3 linked regions of the Homo sapiens genome follow. The protein of the gene in region 3 purifies or fractionates together with the protein of the main gene of each other region. This does not show direct contact. Each region holds a gene or a part of one and is shown on either strand. Other genes may lie near its edges.

Region 1 (3,655 bases), on a different chromosome or scaffold from region 3:
TGCATGAAAGTCTCATATGTAAAAAATGATTATTCTGAATTTAATCTGTCATTGGTCATATTTCTAAGTGTTCAACCTTATAAAAAAAATAAATGACTATCAAAAAAGAGAAAAACCTTACATTATGTTCTACTAGTTAAGTTTTCAAGGACAGTGTTCACTAGTCTACCATAGACCCTAGAAGAGTTACCCAACACATAGTAGCACTCAAATATTTGTTGAATGAATTATAAAAATGACTACTTGTACTGTTAATTTTGTGTATTCTAGTGAATTAAATCTCTTCGGCATCATTTACTCCCTTAGGTATTTGACTTTGTGTCAAATGTTTTGGCAAGGATAAAATTATAACAGACTTTCTTGAACAACCAAAATATAATCTATTAAGGATTTTCCTTCACTTTTGATAAAATAAGAAAAAAGGAAATTAAAACCTTGCATCCTAATGTAAAATAGAATTATATGGTGTTTAATATCAGTGTCCCTTTAGCTATTATATTAAACTACTATAGTTAATAAATTTTATCATTATTTTGTATGTTGGTTTTTAAAAATTTCATAAAGCTATAAAAAGATACTTGGTCAGATAAAGTTTCCTCTGCTTTTAATTTTAATAAAGTATTATTATGTATATGATTTCTTTTTACCTATTATATATATGCATCTATTGTTTTCTCACTGGTAAATATGGGACGGACATTTTGTTAGAAGGTTAGAAGTGAGTTAAATTTTCACATTCCTAAGGGTACTTTTGTCTTGGGTTGTTGAATATATTTTAAAGTGTTTATAATAATCACTTCAAAATATTTAGGTAATTAACTGTAAATGATGTTTTGGTATTCTCCAGGGACAATGGCCTTAGAGCTATTGAGAATTTGATGCAAAAGAAGGGGAAATTTGATTACATACTGTTAGAGACCACTGGATTGGCAGACCCAGGTAAGAAGTGAGGTTGTTAATAACCAGAATATAGTTCTGTGATATACTGTAAATAGATGTATTAGAGGAATATCTAACATGAGGATTAAAGCTTTTGTTAGTATTAAACCAAAAACTTTTTTTGGTTTAAAAGAGGAAAAGTACTCGGTTGTCATTTTCTTTGGCAGTTGAATGAATGAACGGAGTATTTCTTGGTACTTTTAAGCTGTTAATAGAATTTGAAGTTTTATTGATTGACTTAGGATTATTTGTAAGAACAGAAGTTGTTAAAAATAAGGACATGTAGGAAGAGCAGAGACGTTCTACCTCTAAGTACAGTTGTCCCTTGGCATCCATGGGGTATTAGTTCCGGAACCTCTGAGGATACCAAAATCTATTAATGTTCAAGTCCCTTACATAAAATGGTGTAGTATTTGCCTATAACCTATGCACATCCTCCCATATACTTTAAATCATCTGTAGATTACTTATAATACCTAATACAATGTAAGTGCTGTGTAAGTAGTTATTACACTGCATTGATAAGGGAATCATGACAGGGAACTCTGAACTCTACTATGGAAAGCTACACAGAGTCAACCTGTTTCTAACAATGGGTTTCTGTTACCTTCTTACCAAGCTCTAATTCTTGATAAAGTCTGCTTATTTTCCCCAAATAACTTTTAGATAAAATCTTTATTTTCAGTTTGCATAAAAGTTAGTGCTTATTCTGTGAATCTGTGAATCTGACCCATACCATTATTTTTTTTTTTTTTTTTGATCTGGGTCTCTGGCATTGGGGCGATTTGTAAAACTATATTAAAGTATTTGGGGGTAATTTACTAAACAGGTCATAGTTGTCCAAAAGAAATATTGAAGTATCCTGAGAGTTCAAATGTGATCCGTGGTTATTGTAATTAAAACAATTACATAATAACATCATCCCCATGTTTTCAAAGTAGTATTGAATTAGGCTATTTTGGTCCTTATAGTAGGCATGGGTTTTCATACCTTTCTGATAAATCTGACTGATGATAGGACTTGGACTAATATGTTGGTGTTAAATATTTGAATCTGGTAAGAAAGAAAAATATATTGTATGCTTTTATTAGAAATAGCAAATATCAGTTTATTTCATCATAGCCAGTTTTGCCATTTTATAGACAAAAACTTGATACTTTTGAGAGTTTAATTAAACACGATTCAGCTTTTCAGAGGAAGAAAGAAAAACTAAAGATCACAGAGAAAGCTTTTATACAAATTGTAGTTATAAAAAATCTTAATGTTTCTTGCTTCTAACTTTCTTTACAATAAAGATTTTATTGTTTGGGTAAAGATGGAACATTCATTGTAAAAAAATTTAAATACCTAAAAAATACAAAGAAGAAAGTTGAAAAGTAATCATCTCACTATTGTGATATACAAGTAGGGGCTGGGCATGGTGGCTCATGCCTGTAATCCCAGCACTTTGGAAGGCTGAGGCAGGTGGATCCCTTGAGGCCAGGAGTTCAAGACCAGCCTAGCCAACATGGTGAAATCCAGTCTCTACTGAAAATTCAAAAACTAGCCAGGCGTTGTGGCGCACCCCATAATCCCAGCTACTCAGGAGGCTAAGGCATGAGAATCACTTCAAAGCTGGGAGGCGGAGGTTGCGGTGAGCCGAGATCACGCCACTGCACTCCAGCCCAGGCAACAGAGCAAGACTGTATACACACACACACACACGCACATGCACACGCACACACACACACACACACATTCATACACACACACACATTCATACACACACACACAAGTAGGTAAATTTTATTCCAGGGATCTCTCTATGCCAGTGCTACTTGGTAGTATGTTGAATGGCAGCCTCAGCCTCATCTGGGAGCTTGTTAGAAAGGCAAATTCTTGACCAACCCAGATCTACTGAATCGGAATCTCTAAGGGAGGGGGTCAAGCAAGCTGTTTTTAATAAGCCCTTCAGGTGATTCTTATACTGTACAGCCATACCGCAGGGATATTGTGGGCTTAGTTCCATATCACTGCAGTAAACTGAATATCACAATAGAGTGAGTCACACACATTTTTTTGTTTCCCATTGCATATAAAAGTTATGCGTTTTGGCCGGGTGTGATGTCACAGGCCTGTAGTCCCAGCTACTTGGGAGGATCACTTGAGCTCAGGAGTTTGAGGCTGCAGTGAGTCATGATTGCACCACTGCACTCCAGCCTGGATGACAGCATGAGACCCCATTTCTTAAAAAAAAAAAAAAAAGCTGTGTTTATACTATACTGTAGTCTATAAAATGTGTAATAGAATTGTCTAAAAAACATACATACCTTAATTAAAAATATTTATTGCTAAAAAATGCTAACAATCATCTCAGCTTTCAGCAAGTCATAATCTTTTTGCTGGTAGAGGGTCTTGCCACAATGTTGATGGGTGCTGACCAATCAGGGTAGTAGTTACTGAAGGTTGGGGTGGCTATCGCAATTTCATAAGATAATAATGAAGTTTGCTGCATTAGTTGACTCTCCCTTTCATAAAAGATGTCTCTATAGCACATGATGCTATTTGATAGCATTTTACCCACAGTATGACTTCTTTCAAAATTGGAGTCAGTCCTCTCAAACCCTGCTTTATCAATTAAGCTTCTGTCATATTTTAAATCCTTTGTTGTCATTTTGACAGTGTTCATAGCATCTTCACCAGGAGTAGATTCCATCTCAAGAAACCACGTTCTTTT
Region 2 (3,655 bases), on a different chromosome or scaffold from region 3:
TTTTCTGGTCTATACAGTTTTCTTCTACATGCCTACCTTTCTAATAAACTGAATCTTTGTGTAGCCATGATTGCAGGCAATCTAACTAAAATCAGACTCCATTCATAAATTGGGTTTGCCCAGCTGTGTGGATACTAATAGACTATTTTAAGTTCAGCTCGTAACTTCAGTGCACAATAAATGCATTCACATCACCCTTTATTGTGCTGCTGTGACTCCCCAGAAAGTAGCTCTGAACAATTTGAGCATTTCTGTACAATTATCTTTTGACAAAACTATAGAGCAGAAACAGTACTGAAGTAGGAATCAGAAAGTCACATCCTAGCTGTGTGATCTTTGGAAAGTCACACAGTCACTCACAGCCCAGTTTCTTCATCTGCCAGAGGAGGATAATTATACTAACCATGACTGCTTTGCAGCCTTCTTATAAAAACAGAAGCAAATAATGTATGATCATTTATTTTGAAAACTCTAAACTGTTATGCACTCTTTTAATTGAACCACTATATCATTATTATAATTACTGGCACTTTCCTAGCATCCTTTACAAGCTCAGTGATCATGTCAGCTGATCATCCAGGCCTGACATTTTCCCTCCGCCTCATAAGGAGTGAACCAACCTATAACCAGCCAGTACAGCAGTGGAGCTTTGTCTCTGACTTTGCCGTAAGTGACTAAGACTCTTAATTAATTTTCTTCTGCTGCTGCCATCTGATTACACCTCAGATTTTTAAATGTAATATATCAATATCTTCTCCTCAAAGGTACGTGACTACTCAGGGACCTATACTGTGAAGCTGGTGCCATGCACTGCCCCATCACATCAGGAATACCGCCTGCCAGTCACCTGCAACCCCAGAGAACCTGTCACCTTTGACCTTGACATCCGATTCCAACAGGTGTGGCTTATAGAATTACTATCTTATGACTTGCAGAATCCCACTTTGTTTTTCATTTATTAGTAAAAAAAAAAAAAATCCACACGTGAATGACTTTAATTCTTGCATGCTGAAAAGAAAAGAAATCAGACAGTTAAGGAAGCTAGGGATAAAAGAATGAGGAGAGATTTGCCCTTTATCTGTTGTTAGTACAGGATGTAAAATTCAGAGTTTAAATGTATGCAATGGTTATTTTTTTCTTATCTGATCTTATCTTGTGTCCTCCTGAAGTTTGCTGTCTTGGAGATTTGAGAATTTTCCCCGCACTTCTGCATTTCTTTTCTTGTTCTTCTCTAAAGAGAATGAAATCCTGTAGCTCAAACCACCTCAAAGTACCTAATTGCCATTATGTATTATAAAAAATGTGATGGCATCTTTTTTTCAAGAATTTTTACTGTTGGCCTTCTACTGACAATGATATTTACAAGTCCTTTATATACCCCAATAAACCAGTGGAAATGAGCTCAAGCAATGCTGTTTAGTCCCATTCAAAAAATGACTTGATCCCACCAGTTTTGCCTTCTCAAGGACAAAAGCAATGTTACAACTCTCTGAGTTAGCTTGGTAGGGTGTGAAAATTGCGATGCAGTGTTTAGTGTTCTACAGTGTACGGTGAATGTATGTATCTGTGAACAGTATGTTTGTGCACCATCAGAACCACTGATGCATAAAAGAACTTTTACCTTTGGTTTTAGGTCAGTGATCCAGTGGCTGCTGAGTTTAGCTTGAACACCCAAATGTACCTGCTCTCTAAGAAGAGTCTCTGGTTGTCTGATGGATCCATGGGATTCGGGCAAGAGAGTGATGTTGCTTTTGCAGAAGGTATCACTTTACAAATGAGAGGGATGCTCTGTTTGTCATGTATATCTTTTGTGCTTTGCTTTTTGGGGATTGTGTTTGAGGGGGCAAATTATAGCTTTTTTTATGGTTTTGAGAATGTAACTGGGTCTTTACCCACTCTGGCTGGTGTGGGAAGTCGTTGCGATTGGGTATATGTAACTGGGTATCTTTTTTTTCTGAGGAAGCTAATCTCTAGCTGTCTTACCTAAGTGACTTTTGGAACAAGTCTAGATGATTTTCTCGAATGTTTTTTTTCAATCTGTGTAAACTTAAATGCTGCAGCTACATGAGACTGTAAATGCCTCTCAGGCAAAGATTGTGCCTGCCTTACTCAATGGTGTATATTCAGCACCCAGCACACATACCTAGCAGAAATACCTGGCACTCATGGTAGGGGTTCAATAATAGTTATGAAATAAAGAATTGAACACCAGGGGGTTTCATTAAACCCTCTTTCAGAAACAAATAACGTTAATTAGGCTTTGTATTGATACTTTCTTTCTTAGTGTTATTCTATATTGTATCAGTATATATCTTATCAACTTATTTTTGTAAACTGGACTTGGACCACAATGGGATATTATTAATGCCAAATTATAGGCCAGATCTTTGAAATTATTCACACTAGTGGCTGAGCATCTGAGACTCAATAAATCTTTAGTCACTTCTGGTCAGTCTGCAAAGTGGTCTTACCTGAGGCCTGAGAATGTACCAGATCTTGAAGCTCATGCAAACAGGCCTTCAACATTTGATAGTAGATGAGGGTGGCAAGGAAATAATCTCTGTGTCCTCATTGTCATAACCTGTTTACAGTGTCACGTTGATATACCTTATCATATAACAGAAATAACATTTCCACATCTCTATTTCAGGTGATATAATTTATGGTCGTGTCATGGTGGATCCTGTCCAGAATCTGGGTGACTCCTTTTACTGCAGCATTGAGAAGGTGTTTCTATGCACTGGAGCTGATGGCTATGTTCCCAAGTATAGTCCAATGAATGCAGAATATGGCTGCTTAGCCGACTCTCCTTCACTCTTATATAGATTTAAAATTGTGGTAAGTGCTTTGACCCAAAAAATGAGCTAGATAGATTTTTCAAAGTTCAGCCTCCTTGTCTTATATTTAAAAACAAGGCTGGGCACAGTGGCCACACTATAGTCCCAGCACTTTGGGAGGCCAAGGTAGAAGGATCACTTGAAGCCAGGATTTCAAGACCAGCCTGGGCAACATAGTGAGACCCCATCTCTACAAAAAATTTTAAAAAATTAGCCGAGCATCGTGGCACATGCCTGGAGTCCCAGCTACTTGGGAGGCTGAGGTGGGAAGATTGCTTAAGTCAGGAAGTTCAATCTATGATCATGCTACTGCACTCTAGCCTGGGTGACAGAGAAGGTCCCCGTCTCTTAAAAAAAATAGAAAAACCAACAAAATGATCATTTTTAGTAAACCAAATGGTGACATTTTATAGTAATTTGTACTTGCACAAAACAAATAGAGAAACATGCTGTCCTGGCAAAAGCCGTGGCATTATCTACAGCAATCACCACTTTCCTTACTGCTTAAAGGACAAAGCTCAGCCAGAGACACAAGCGACCAGTTTTGGAAATGTCCTATTTAATGCCAAACTAGCAGTGGATGACCCTGAAGCCATTCTCTTAGTGAATCAGCCTGGATCTGATGGATTTAAAGTCGACTCAACACCACTCTTTCAGGTAGGCCAAAAACAAGCTCATTTGTAGTAGTTGTGTACCCACATGCAAGTTATGGAACATTTATATGCCTCAGATGTCTCATATGTAAATAGCAGTAATAGTAATATTGCATACAGTTAATGGGAACATTGAATAAGATATGGCAAATAAACTACATAACC
Region 3 (3,755 bases):
GCAGCCGTCTGGGAGGAGGGCTAGGGACAGCCAGCCGGTCTTGCAGGGCCCCTTGTCATCAGCTCAGCCCAGTGAAAGGAGCACTGAGCCCAGCGTCAGGCCTGGTTCTCACCTGACTCTGTCACCCTGGGCCTGTGGGGTCCCAGCAGGTCACTTTTTACAGCCTCAGCTTCCTCATCTGTGAATAAGGGGTCAACAGACCGTAGTCTCCCACATCTCCCCATTACATATGGAATAAACTCCCAACTCCGCAGGCCTTTGGAGCACCTTAGTGCAGAGCAGCCTCTGCACCCACCAACACCTCCCTCCCATCGTCCTCCTTCTCTCCCGTTCCTCTCAGCCCTGGCTCAGTCCATGCTGATCCATCCTTTCTGTCTGAAACCCCTCCTGCTCTCCTCTCCTGTCTTGAGTAGACAGGACTGCTCTCTTCTGTAGCATTTTTTACCTACCTTTCTTTCTTTCTTTCTTTTGAGATGGAGTCTCACTCTGTTGCCCAGGCTGGAGTGCAATGGCGCCATCTCAGCTCACTGCAACCCCCACCTCCCAGGTTCAAGTGATTCTCTTGCCTTGGCCTCCTGAGTAGTTGGAATTACAGGCACTCGCCACCATGCCCGGCTAATTTTTTTTGTATTCTTAGTAGAGCCGGGGTTTCACCATGTTGGCCAGGCTAGTCTTGAACTCCTGACCTCGTGATCTGCCCGCCTCGGCCTCCCACAGTGCTGGGATTACTGGCATAAGCCACCGCACCCAGCCTTCCCTACCTTTCTAAACCATGAGGCCCTGTATGGTTAGGGGCCACAACTTACTTATCTCTGAACTCGTGGGTGTCTTGGCAATACCTGGTACACAGTAAGTCCTCAATAAATATAGGATGCATAAACGAGTAAAATCCAAGCCATTTCCCACTAAAACCTCCAGACCTCTGGTGTATGATGACCTGCTGTCATAGCCCAAAGGAATGGTTGAGTTTCAGGTATCCAGAGAAAAATGCAGGTGTAGAGCTTTCCCCTCAAACGTATTAACAAATAGATGGTGCTCAGTCATTTTCGCGGCAGGCTGCAGAGAAATCTTAAACTTTCGTGTTGTTTCACTGAGGGTACGGCAGAAGAGCCCAAGGAATGTGAAAGGAGAAACTTGCATAATTAGACTTTATGTGGGGAGTAGGCACCGAGTGTGTGACAAGCACAAGGGGCTACGTGTGCGGCCAGATGACGCTGCACGGTCAGAACCCACAAAACAACACGGCAACAGGTGGATTTTAAACCCCTTCTCTGCTTTCAAAGCAGGTCCAGGCTCTACATTTACAGAAGGAGAGTTAGGGCAAGGGGAATGTGGGGGAAACTGAAATTAGTTAGAACTAAGATCAGCAATAAAATTCTTCAAAGACACTGCTTCTCACTTTACCAGGATTTTTGTTTTGTTTTGTTTTGAGTTTTTATTTCTTCTTTTTCTTTTTTGTTCTTTGCTTTTATCAATGAAGCAAGTTGCTAGGATGCAAAAGGAGTTGGGGGGTAGAAGGGCGGGGTGGGAAGCAGAGGTGGGAGGGGTCGAGGTTGGAGCACCTGTCGTCTGCATGACGTGGACGGCTGGTTCTGGTTGTATTTTAAATGAAATCTCATCCCAGCGTAGACACCACGTCTGGAATTACGATCCACCCTGTGATCTGTCACTTTTATATACACACAGGGGAGGGGACCGTTTCCATAGAGAGGGAATATCACAGCCCACTTAGGAACAATACCGGAGAAGCAGGAGCCGAGACCCCGGAGCAGCCACAAGTTCATGGGGACGTGCACGGGGCCGCCCTCCTGGCCCTGAAGCTGCGCCGGCCTCCCTGAGCGTTTCGCTGCGGAGGGAAGTCCACTCTCGGGTAAGCTTGTGGCTGGGACTGACTTATGAAGGGTAAATGTATCTGCCCTAATTTAAGCAGGAGGTGCCATGCACTAGACAGGTGTGAGAGATGAGAGCTGCTAGCGCCCCTGGGTGGAAGCCCAAGGGAGCGATGCTGAACGCCCCCCACCCAATCAGCAGAAATCAGCCCCAAAGGGACCAGGGGAAGTTTCTCAGGGAGGCACAATCACATTCCCACGTTGGTATAGAGAGACCCTCTTTCCAAAGGTGTTAGATCAGAGGCAGAAGGTGTTCACACAAATCTGTTTTCTCTGAACAGAGCACAGCTGTGCACAGGAAAGTCAGTCCTCGGAGACAGTTTACAAATGGGGATGGGGTAGGGATGCCGGGGCTAATGGGAGCCACAGGACATGACTCCACGCCGCCTGCAAAGCAGCGAGGACACCTGCACTTACTGTTTACCTGTGCCACAAACCTTCACCTGTGCCATCTCCCGTCACTCTCGGGCACACCTGTGAAGCAGGTAACGTCTCCTTCCTAGGACGCGGCAAGTGAAATGCAGGTTAAGGGATTCACCCAAGAAAAGTCAGAGGCAAGGGAGTTTCCCCAGCCAGGTCCTCTGCCACCAAAGCCCAGAGCCCTTTGCCACACTAGGAACATTGCGGGGGTGTGTGCAGATACCTACAATGGCTAACTCCTACCTGTGAAGGGGAGATGGATGTTTGATGTTTATGTTTTCTGAAAATTCCTGTTCGCAATTTCTTTCCCAAGCATAGCCACCTACCAAAAATAACAAATGTGAGATTTTTAAAACGTTTTAAGTGGTCTAGTTTCAGTTTAACTTCTTATCAGTGTTTGCAGACAAACGGAGCCCACAGGAATAGCTCTGCACTTGGCAGAGATGTGTGATCAGTACTGTTTGCCTCCTGCCTTTGCTGCTTCATGTCCTGTCCTCTCCCTGTGAGGTGCTGGGAATTGGAGGCTGACCCAGGTCCCTCACGTTTCAGTGCTTGGCTCTGCCACAGCTCCCAGAAGTAACTGTGTCTCTTTACAGCATCCTCGACAAGTGCTACTGTCACCATAGCCCAAAGGAATGGTTGAGTTTCAGGCACCCAGAGAAAAATACAGGTGTAGAGCTTTGCCCCTCAAATGTATTAATAACTAGATGGTGCCCAGTTATTTTCGTGGCAGACTGCAGAGAAATCTTAAACTTTTGTGCTGTTTCACCAAGAATATGGCAGAAGAGTCCAAGGAATGTAAAAGGAGAAACTTGCAAAATTAGACTTTATGTGGGAAGTACAGAGTATCTTTTCTTCTTTGGGGAGAGTTCCTTTTCTTTTATCCTATAAACCCTAAACAAATCTAAACAGATCCTAAAAAGAAAAGTCCTGGAAAGAAATCTGAATCTACCTTCCAGCCCCCAGCCACTCACACACTTTGATGGTGAAACCATCCAGGGTTGCAAAGAACCCTTACATTTTAAACGATCTAAAACTAAGCTCAGCACCGGGCGTCCCTATCATGTCCAATTCACAGTTCTGGGAGGTTCCTTTGCTGTGTAACTTTGCATCATTGCTGATGGTAAGGGGACACCTTTCAATACCCTCACAACCGTGTGCAGGCTAGAGCTGAGGGTTTGCAGAGAGAGAAAGGTCTGCTACCTGCAGATGCACCAAGAACAGAGCGCCACGCAGGACACTTGCTCCCTGACACTTTCACAGATTTTTCCACACCTTCAGCACCCTAGCCGTGATTACAGTATTCTTCTCTGATGGTAGACTTGGGATTTGAAAAATAAGAAGGTAATGCATTTTTTAAAAGGCACAGTATTTACAAATTGACCCCAAAAATGTGAAAAAGTAAATATAGAGGTAAAAGGGATCTCACTCCCTCTCCCCAATGCC

What was found.
Region 1: the proteins of UCN3 (region 3) and ZNG1B purify together in Homo sapiens (affinity purification with mass spectrometry; one large-scale study listed by BioGRID and IntAct). This does not show direct contact.
Region 2: the proteins of UCN3 (region 3) and FREM2 purify together in Homo sapiens (affinity purification with mass spectrometry; one large-scale study listed by BioGRID and IntAct). This does not show direct contact.

Annotation. Positions count from the first base shown.
Region 1 is NC_000002.12:113,444,117-113,447,771, forward strand, and holds part of ZNG1B (zinc-regulated GTPase metalloprotein activator 1B), read left to right. Parts: intron 1-847; coding exon 848-939; intron 940-3,655. UniProt on the Homo sapiens protein: Zinc chaperone that directly transfers zinc cofactor to target metalloproteins, thereby activating them.
Region 2 is NC_000013.11:38,875,484-38,879,138, forward strand, and holds part of FREM2 (FRAS1-related extracellular matrix protein 2 precursor), read left to right. Parts: intron 1-538; coding exon 539-666; intron 667-764; coding exon 765-899; intron 900-1,633; coding exon 1,634-1,760; intron 1,761-2,650; coding exon 2,651-2,838; intron 2,839-3,347; coding exon 3,348-3,494; intron 3,495-3,655. UniProt on the Homo sapiens protein: Extracellular matrix protein required for maintenance of the integrity of the skin epithelium and for maintenance of renal epithelia. Required for epidermal adhesion. Involved in the development of eyelids and the anterior segment of the eyeballs.
Region 3 is NC_000010.11:5,363,361-5,367,115, forward strand, and holds the start of UCN3 (urocortin-3 preproprotein), read left to right. Parts: upstream 1-1,605; 5' UTR 1,606-1,870; intron 1,871-3,755. UniProt on the Homo sapiens protein: Suppresses food intake, delays gastric emptying and decreases heat-induced edema. Might represent an endogenous ligand for maintaining homeostasis after stress.